2 separate regions of the Homo sapiens genome follow, and region 2 is reported to be linked to region 1. The links are microRNA targets in miRTarBase. Many come from high-throughput screens and were not tested one by one. Region 1 holds a microRNA gene; the other region holds the end of a gene's coding sequence.
The links. Region 1 holds the annotated microRNA hsa-miR-513b-3p (AAAUGUCACCUUUUUGAGAGGA, at 3,035-3,056, opposite strand). A microRNA usually pairs through its seed, bases 2 to 8, with sites in the 3' UTR of a target mRNA and lowers its output. Matches are read on the target gene's strand: a 7mer-m8 pairs with bases 2 to 8, a 7mer-A1 pairs with bases 2 to 7 and ends in A, and an 8mer does both.

Region 2: the mRNA of TOM1L2 is a reported target of hsa-miR-513b-3p. Seed matches in the 3' UTR shown: 7mer-m8 at 3,814-3,820.

The regions. Positions count from the first base shown.
Region 1 is chrX:147,196,023-147,201,200 of GRCh38, forward strand. It overlaps MIR513B (microRNA 513b), which reads right to left and starts at 3,105; the gene lies at 3,022-3,105. The region is part of intron 1 of LOC105373347 (periphilin-1); the gene reads left to right.
Region 2 is chr17:17,843,300-17,848,299 of GRCh38, forward strand. It overlaps TOM1L2 (target of myb1 like 2 membrane trafficking protein), which reads right to left. Exons shown (of 15, transcript NM_001082968.2): 15 at 212-4,484. The coding sequence ends at 4,336. Among named protein-coding and RNA genes, the nearest start is that of SREBF1, 8.8 kb to the left of the region's middle. RefSeq lists an enhancer at 968-1,488.

The sequences.
Region 1 (5,178 bases):
ACAGATCAAAACAGCCTCATAGAACTGACATTTTATTGAAAAACACAGATACTTTTTAAAAAGTAACTAGTAAAATTCTTGGTATACACAGGAGTGTTAAATTATATGTAGTTATTTATGCTGGATATATGTTATTTATCACATTATTAAATTACATATATTTTTAGTATTCTGTAGATTGCCTTTTTATTATCTCAGTGGTCTGATTTGAAGACAAATTTTAATTTTTTCAAAGTCTATTTTATCAACTTATTTTTAATTTTACTTTTATATTTTGATATCATATATAATAATTGATAGGATGCCTATGGTATATTATCGGGGGAAAAAAGTTACTGAAAGGTAAAGAAGATTAAAAATAAATATCTATATAAATAAAAAAATATATATATATTCTGCCTTTTATTCATAAAATTTTATACTTGGACATTTTGGCCTAAAATTGTGTTATTTTCCGTATATGGTTTGAAATATGGATCGAGGTTCATATTTTTCATATATATATATATATATATCACATTTTCCAGTATCTTGTTTAAATACTATCATTTCTTCATTAGACTGACTTTACAGCTTAGTCTAAATGAATTGGTGACATATATGTATATTTCTGGTCCTTCTATTTGTCCATCCTTTCTTCAGTACCACACTATATTGGCTAATCTAGTTAGACAGTAAATCTGGAAATTACAAGTGTAAATTCTCCAACTTTGTGATTCTCTTTCAGACTCTTTTGGATATTCTAGTTTATTTGCCTTTTATATCAGTTTTAGAATCATCATGGTAATGTCTACAAATATTTTTCTGCGACATTGGTTGGAATTGCATTACCTCTAGAGATCAATAGAACTCTATAAGTCTATAGATTTGAATCCTTCGATCCATAAATATGATACTCCTCTCCACTTAATTAGGAATTATTTGATTTCCTAGTGTATTTACACTTTTAGCATACAGATGTGTTTGGTTTTCTATTGATACTGAATCAAATTGCCACAAATTTAGTTGTTTCCAACAACACAAATTTATTATATTAGGGTCTAAAGGTCAGAAATCTAAATTAGGTTTCTCTTGGCTAAAATGAAGGCATTGGCAGGGCTTTGTTCCTTCTGTTGGCTCTAGAGGAGAATCTACTTGATTGTCTTTAGAAGAAGATGCTACTTGCTTTCTCCGTTCTTTGGCTCATGGACTTTACCTCCACCTCTAGTCAATACTATAGCCTTTTCCAATGTTTCTCTTATTCTAACCGCCTTTCTCCTACTTATAAGGACCCTTGTGATAATGTTGGGCTCACCTAGATAATCTAGGATAATCCCAATCTCAAAATATTTAATTTAATCACATGCACAAATTTTCTTCTGCAATAAAATGTGTTGTTTACAAGTTCAGGGGTTACTCTGTAAACATTGTTTTGAGGGGGCTGTTATTCTGCCTACCACAGAGATCTTGTAATTTTTTTCTTAGAATTTCACCTAAATATTTTATGTTCATATTATTTTATTTTTCAATTAGCTTGATTTAATCATTTCCTAATGTACACATATATCAAAACATCATGGTGTATACCTTAAATATATACAACTTTTATGTCAGTTAAACCTTAATAAATTGGTAGAAACATGGATGAATAATACAAAACAGAATTTCTCTGAAAGAAAACATAAATACCAGTGAATATACTATTCTTTTTGAGTAAATCATAAAAGAGATACGATAACAACTAAATTTTCTTACTTTCATTTTAGGATATCACTTAAAGTTATATAAGTAACATGCTTTCACTATAATACAGTTTTAGAAACTATATACTAAGAGGAGTTATCACTTTGGAAAATTCTACGTACATACAGTATTTCAAACTGACAGAATTTTTTTACTGTTCAGAATGTTCCCCCCGACCCACACACACATACAAAGATTCTTTGTATTCTATTAGTGCAATTGTTTCATTATGGAAAAGATACATCAACAGATTTTTTTTTTTACTTTCAGTTACTAATGGTCTTACACATATTCATCCATTCTGAATCTAAAAAAAAAAACATAAACTAAAATCCTCCCTGTAACCATATAGTAATTTTTTAACAGTTTTTCCCTTTCAGTGTATATGCTGTAGCCTCTATTTCAGTTGGAATCAAAATTGTATTAATCACTTACTATTTCTAAAACATTTTTTACACATTTCCACAATATAAGTAGCTTATTTATAACCTACTTCCCAAACATGCATACTGGTTTCATGCTGCAGAAGGCATCACACAGTCTGGCGCTTGTCTCTCTCTCTCCCTCTCCCTCCTTTTCTCTCTCTCTCTCTGTGTGTGTGTGTGTGTGTGTGTGTATTTATTTCCCTCTCTCTCTCTCTCCATTGGGTTAAAAGTTAAGAAGTGTCACCAGAAGAAAATGGAGAGAGAAGCCTGGGAGACATCTCCTGAGTATCAGTTCTGTCACACCCTTTCATTCTTCAAGTGTATTCTTAAAAAATGGGGAAAAAGATAATGAAAAAGAATGAAATATTCTTGGATGGACTATGCTTAACCCATTGTAAACTGGTGACATATAGCTTTGAAAGGTAATTTAAAAGTCAATGAAAAACATTTTAGTCTTTGAGAGACAAATGGACACTGTGGATCAACAATGAAGGGACCTGAGAGGCAGGAGAGTCTTTTGGGAGCTCTAAAGGAGAAGCCTTGCAAATGATGACTAGTTGACAAGAGAGAAAAGTTTAGAGAATTTAGGAATCTGGAGTACAACCTTCCAGCTGACGAAGAATGGCTGTGGCCTCTATACAATGTATTTCTTATTTGAGCCAAGCCTCATTTGGCAAAAATAGTTAAATTCTTAAAGAACTTGAGTGCATGCGTTTTCTCAGGAGTCCACAGTTCCTATGTCTAGTCGTCTAGAAGGCACAAAAAGTTCCTTGAAGTAGCCCAGCACTGAGGAGTGGGTGCACAGGATCCAAAACAGGCATCACCATGCTCGCAGCTACAGCCCCATCCCTAGGGACACCACATATGCAGTGCATGCTGTACATTACTCCTCTCAAAAAGGTGACATTTATATTTTAGTTCACATAAATGACACCTCCTTGTGAAAGGCACTGTACACTGAATGGCTGAATGTGGCATCCCAGACCAAATGCTCCCTATTCATGCCATTTTTATTCAAGTCCCTATATAGGTGTATACATTAGCATGGCCACCAAGATTTATGCCAAGGAATTATGCAAATCCTAGCCCCCAGTGCTCCCCTTTCATCCTGCCCTGAGTGAGATTTTAACATGCAGATTTTTGTTTTATTTTGTTATAATCCCAGCCACCCAGGAGCTGAGGCAGGAGTACACCTTGACCCTGGGAGTCAGGTTTCAGTGAGAGGAGATCAGGCCACTATACTCAAGCCTGGGTTACAGAGTGAGACCCTGTCTCAAAACAAAAACAAAATGTAATAGAAAAAAAAAAAAAAAAAAAAACATAAAATTACTGGTTAAGTAGAAAGGACCAACCACTCACCAAAGCTTTCTGTTGTCCTAAACTCCAGCTGTGCTGCACACACCTAAAGTCCATCAGAAAAACCACAGAATACAACAACCTGGATGCAAAGAAGTGGAGAAGAGTCAGAGGGTAACAGGTTGGAGAGAGTAGAAATTTCATTTCTTCTTCAGGCTATGGAGCAGGAAGAACCCATAGAAATTAATACAAGATACACACAAGACAGATAATGGGCTGGAAGACAGGAAATGCTATTTTATTTCTCTTAGCTCCATGGTTCTTTATAGTTCATTTATTTGAGTGCCTGCTCACTCGCTCTGTGTGTGTGTGTGTGTGTGTGTGTGTGTTATTAAATAGTAATAGCTGTAAGATTTTTAGTTCTAAGATTCTTTGCATTAATATATTTTCCATCCTTTTACTTTTACCCAACTTTCACGTAGGTCTTCATATTTAAAATGGCTTTGTTTTAGAAAGTATATAGTTGTTTCTTATTTTTATATAAATTGACAATCTCTGTCTTAATAGAAGCATTTATATCATTTATATTAATACAATTATTTACATACATGCATTTAAATCTACTGGCTTTCTGATTGTTTTCTATGTTTCATCCTTTTCTTATTCCAAATTTTCCTCTTTTCTGCCTGATGGTGGATTTAGTATTTTTAGCATTCAGTTATATTTTCTCTACTCTTGGCGTATTAGTTAGGTCACTTTAAAAAATATAGTGGTTGCTCTAGGGTTTACAAAGTTCATATTTAATTCATCACAGTCTATCTTCAAAGAATATTATACTACTTTTTGGCTGAATAGGAACAGCTCCAGTCTGCAGCTCCCAGTGTGATCAATGCAGAAGACGGGTGATTTCTGCATTTCCAACTGAGGTACCTGGTTCATCTCATTGGGACTGGTTGGACAGTGGCTGCAGCCAATGGAGGGTGAGCTGAAGCAGGGTGGGGTGTCGCCTTACCCGGGAAACACAAGGGTTTGGGGGATTTCCCTTTACTAGCGAAGGGAAGCCGTGACAGACTACCTGGAAAAAAGGACACTTCCGCCTAAATACTATGATTTTCCCAAGGTCTTAGCAACCGGCAGACAAGGTGATTCTCTCCTGTGTCTGGCTCAGCGGGTCCCATGCCCACGGAGCCTTGCTCACTGCTAGCACAGCAATCTGAGATCGATCTGTGAGGCAGGCGGCAGCCTGGCTTGGGGAGGCGCATCCGCCATTGCTGAGGCTTGAGTAGGTAAACAAAGCAGCCAGGAAGCTCAAACTGGGTGGAGCCCACAGCAGATCAACAAGGCCTACTGCCTCTAAACTCCACCTCTGTGGACTGGGCATAGCTGAACGAAAGGCAGCAGACAACTTCTGCAGACTTAAACATCCCTGTCTGACAGCTCTGAAGAGAGCAGTGGTTCTCCCAGCATGGCGTTTGAGCTCTGAGAAAGGACAGATTGCCTCCTCAAGTGGGTCCCTGACCCCCCATGTAGCCTAACTGGGAGACACCTCCCAGTAGGGGCCAACAGACACCTCATACAGGTGGCTGCCTCTCTGGGACGAAGCTTCCAGAGGAAGGATCAGGCAGCAATATTTGCTGTTCTGCAATATTTGCTATTCTGCAGCCTCCACTGGTGATACCCAGGCAAACATGGTCTGTAGTGGAACTCCAGCAAACTCCAGCAGATCTGCAGCTGA
Region 2 (5,000 bases), not on the chromosome of region 1:
AGCAGGCTTACAGCCACTCCCACCGATGTCACAACCTGGGCCACGCACAGGAATTTTCCTGGCCAGGTAAGGGGCTGCTCAGGCAGCCTGGCCACTGGGGAAGGGTGGACTGAGGGTCCCCATGGCCACCCCTGCTTAAATAAAGCAGGTGGTCAAAACTGGCAAGCCCTTTGGACAGTCGTAGCCAATTCAACAGACCACACAGGCATAATTTGTTCAATTATTTATTTATTGTGGAGTATTTTACATGCAAGAACCCAATTAGAGAGAGGGTATCTGGAAGGAGGGCCAGTGGGGTGGATGGATGCTCTGAGCCTCGGGTGCACTGACCCACCCTCCAGAACCAGCTCTGCCCACAGAAACACATGACAGTGACAAAAACACTAAACTTCTAGGACGAGTGGACAGCAAACGCGACATTCAACACATTCCTCTTTTCAGTAGCCCCCAACAATCCTGAGAATCCTCACAATTAAGTGCAAACTTTAGGAAATAAATATCCGTCCCCCTCTCCGGGAGAGCCTGGAGGTATGGACAGACAGAAGCAGTTCTGACTCGGGGGCTGATGGCTGCTCCCTATGGCTGGTGGCCGCAGGGGAAGCCTGACTTGGACCCCACAGATAGGAAGGGCTGGTGACGGGCACTGGGGGAGGCGAGCACTTCAGGGGCTGACAGACAATGTCTCTGGGGTGGAAACACTTCTCTCTGGGTGGGGAAGGCCTACTGTAACCCAAGTGGGTGAGACGTCCCCAAAGCCGACAGTGCAGAAGCTCCCAGGGACCACTCCAGCAGTGCCAGAGGCTGAAGCCAGGCTGCAAGCAAGTGCTCCTCCACACTGCTCTTCCAGAGCTGCCCCAGGGGCTGGCCTGGCCCCAGGTGGGCCCATGGCCTACCCCAAGCCATCCAGAAGGCTGGGCCCAACTGAGTTAGAGATGCGTGTCTGCGGGGGCCCAGGGTGGGGTGTGGCAGCGGGAAGGAGGGGGGCAGGAGCGTGAGCATCGGCAGCAGCTGCCCTGCGAGCATCTGTTGCCCTTGGGCCATGTGGAGCCCTTGCCCCAACTCTCCGGGCTGGGTCCTCTCCTCCCCAGGGGCTGGAGTGACAGCACAGGCCCCAAGACCACCAGGTGGCATGGTGGGGTGGTGGGGGAAGGCTAGTGAACCAAGGCACCATCACTCACATGGAGGCGCTAATAGAAAGACAGGAGGACAGACGGATGGTCACCTTTCCCTCTAGCCCAGGCCAGCAACAACCCCTTGAGGCTCCAAAGCTCCTTGTCCCATGCACGCTGGTAAGCGAGCCAGTCATTCTCTCAGCCTGGCCACAGATGGCCTGCTCAGTGCCTGGAGACTGCCCAGGCAGGGCTACTCTGCAGCAGGCAGGCCAAAGGCCCATGGTGCCAGGGGCCCAACTGCACATAGCGCCATTCTCTGCCGCCCAGTGGCCAAAAAGGTAGGCAGGAGGGAATGGTTAGTTTTCACATCTCAGCAACAATGAACGCAGAAAGGGTTAAACACATTCCCAAGAAAATATTTTGACAAAATAAATATTTTAACCTATAATCAGGTATAATTAGTGCTTATAAGGAATCCCAGCAATAATTTAGTGTAATTAAGTATATACTGTATCTGTGATTTCTAACACTCACGGAGAGGCTGGTGGGCCTTGAGAGTCCAGGTTTCCTGACAGAGCCGCACCCCCTTCCTGGACCAGGCAGCCTAAGGACTGTGCTCCCCAGATGGTGGGGTCTGGGAGCAGAGATCTCAGGACAGGCCATCTCGCCAGGGCTAAGTGGAACCCACTCTGGGGCACCGGGGCTATACTTGCTTCCTGTGCAGGCCTCAAGCAAGAGCCCCCTCTGCCTACAGGTGGGGCAGGCTACCTCCGGATAGGAGGTGCAAGCAGGCCACCTGAGGGGTGGCTCCAGGCTAGGAAGGCAGGTGACACTTGTCAGCATGGCCAATGGCCTCCTGCCAGCCCATACAGGTCCACCACTCCCTGCTGCCCCTGGGGCAGCCAGGCCTCTCCAATGATGCCTGGCAACCAGCTGGCGCTGGCGCTGGAGCTGGAGCGGGGCAGTTCTGGGAGTGGGTATGAAAAACAGTTTTGCTGGGGGCTCCCCAGGAGGGCGCCTATTTCAGCTTCACGCACTATGGAATCCCTGCTCCTTTCAGAGCCTCCAGGCTCCTGACTTTTTGGGACTCCTGGTTCCATGAGGCAGGGAGGCTGGCTCTTCCCTCTGAGGACACTGGGTCTGGGATGCAGTGCTGAGGCTGCGGAGCACTGACTGCCCGAGGTCGGACCGCCCACCACCCGCAGGCCCAGCTCTGGCAGGGCCTCAGAGACAACCCAAGTCACAACCCAAAGGCAGCCAAAGGGCTGGGGCCTCTGGGTGCACCTGGGCCATCCCAGCCACCTTTTCTGCAGCTCAAGTGAAGCCAGCTAACTTCAGCAGTCTTCACATTCAAGCTGGCCTCAGGGGGGTCTGTCTTTGAGAAACATTGAGGAGGCAGGGGCTCATCAAGCATCAGGGAGCAGAAGGCCCAGGCAGGTGTGGCATGTGCTGCCAGAGAGGACAGGGCTAGAATCAGGCTGGCCACTCCACGGAGGAGCTTCCTGGGTGAACCTGAGCAACTGGAGTGAGACATCCCAGCTAGTCCCACCCTCAGCCAGACAGAGGTTTCCTCTCTGGAGGGAGCTGGAGGGCTGCTAGCCTGGCACAGGGTCCTGGGTCGGGCAGCACTTGCTCTTCACTGGAATAGTTCCTGTTGGTGCTCAGCATGACCCCCAGCTGAAGTCGCCATCCTGAATGCTCCCCAACGACCATGTCGCTGGTCTCTTCTCCCGTCAAGCCCAGCCCCCTTTCCCTGCTTGGCTGGTGGTCTGGGCCGTCCTGCCAGGTGGGAAGGGCTAACTACACCATGGATCAGGAACCTGTGCTGACCTAGGCAGTGCATGCTGGAGGGGACAGGAGCAGACTGACCCAGCGAGCTGGGCCCAAGACACACGGGGATGCATACAGCTGCAGTATTCTCCTTCTGAGCAACAGCAGCCTGGTGGGAGGTGTGGGGCCAGGTGTCTGGCTGGACCAGGGCCTGGGATGACCCGAGTCCCTTGCCCATGGCCAGGAGACACACCAGTGAGGACACGGGATGGGAATACATGTTACCAGCCCCTAGCTGCTCTGCCTGCCTTCAGGATCAGCTTGGGGAGAGAGTATAAATTGGTGGCCAGAGGACCTCTGAGGTGGGAGGAGGCCAGACTGTCAGGAGAGTCTGTGCAAGGAGGCCAAGGCCTATGCCAGGGAGCAGAGCAGGGGCCTTAGTGCTGCCCAGGCCTCTCAGTCACTGGGAACCTCCAAGGATGCCACAAAGCTGTTTGCTGCTGGCTCTTGAGGCAGATGTGTGAGGCTACGGCAGGCCAGGCCACAGCACTGAGTGTGGCCCATGTGCACATCTGTGACACTTCCCCAGGCAAGCCAGAGCAATACCTCCAGTGCAAGTCCCTCCACAAGCCAGGACCAGGTGTGCGGGTGTGAGCCTGCAGTGTGTGCGTGGCAGTTTGGTTTATTGGTAGTGTCGTCTCAGCAGCGTGCCACATGGCCACCATCTGCGGGCTGCCTGCTGCCCTCCCAATTGTCCTTGGCCCTCTCCCTGCCCAGGGAGCCTGCAGGGACCCTCGGTGCCAGGCTCGGCTGCTGAGCCAGCTTGGGTGTGAAGCCTGGGCTGGCAGCTGAATGATGGAGAGAGGGTCAAGAAGGTGAGAGACCCCCACCATGGAGACCCAGCAGAGCCTTCTCAAATGCTGATAAGCCAAATGTCACAAGGTGACAAGTCCAAGGAGTGAGACCAGGCCCATGAGTGCAGCACACCCTGCTCTTCCAGAGATGCCACAAAGCCCCTTCAGGGAGAGAGGGGCCCAGGAGGGCAGAATGCCTGAGAAGGTCGCTGAGCCAGGCAGAGGTGAGCACAGGGCGGGGCCGGGCGTGCTCTTTCTCCATGGGCGGGTGGAGGAAAGACAGTCCGGGTGGTCTGCTCAGGAAGCACTGCCTGGGGCTGGGCCACTCTGCCCGCTCTTCCTGGGAGGAAACATGGGCAGAGGGGCCCATGGTGGGAGGGGAGAGAGTCTCTGGCTGCAGTTGTCCCACCACTCAGAGAAAAGAAGTGGCTGAAGCTGGTCCTGACTAGTGGGAGGCCTGGGAGCAGACACGGTGGCATTTCCATGGAAACACAGGTGTGCAGGCCGTGTGGAGCTGGGGATGTAGGAGTGGCCAGTGCCCGGTGTCCACGGGGTGCGAGCGGGGACCCGCCATCTGGGGAGGCAAACCACAGAGCTGCTCACAGGGCGAAGAGGGCATCCTCTGACCGCTCTGGCTTCTTCCGGCCAGAAGGGTTTGAGGCTGGGGCAGGAGCCTCCATGGGGGGCGAGGGGAGGTCGGGAACCATTTCAGCAGCTTTGGCTCTTTCTTCAAGGAATTTATCAAACTCTGCAATACAAACCAAGGCAAGGGTCAGGGTTGGTGAGGGCAGGCCACCAGAGGAAGCGCACCCTTCCACTCCCCAGCCCGTTTCCTCCTCTAGGGCAGGCATGAAGCCCACCTAGGAGCAGGTGGGTAGGGAGGGGTTCGTGAGCTGCAGTGTGGGGGGAGGCTCCTGGCTGTGCCCAGTCCTCCTGCCCTGGAGGGAAAGGCTCTGGAAAACACAGCCCAGAGTGCTCACCCTACCGCTGACCATTTTCCAGATCAGCACTGGGTTTTGTCCATTTTCCAGATCAGCACTGGGGGTGGGGCAGGGTAAGCTGGAGGGGCCAGCTTCTGATTAAACAGGCAGGAACCATCCCACCTACCCCACCCTTGCCCACCAATGGAGGACTGAGGAGATGCTGAGGAATGCAGTGGGGAGGGGGGAGTGCCCCATTTCTATGGGCACTGAGAGCTAGGGAGCAGGGTCCTCTGAAGTTTCCCTCCCTGCGGAGCGGTCTGGCCACAGGGTCTGGCAGACCT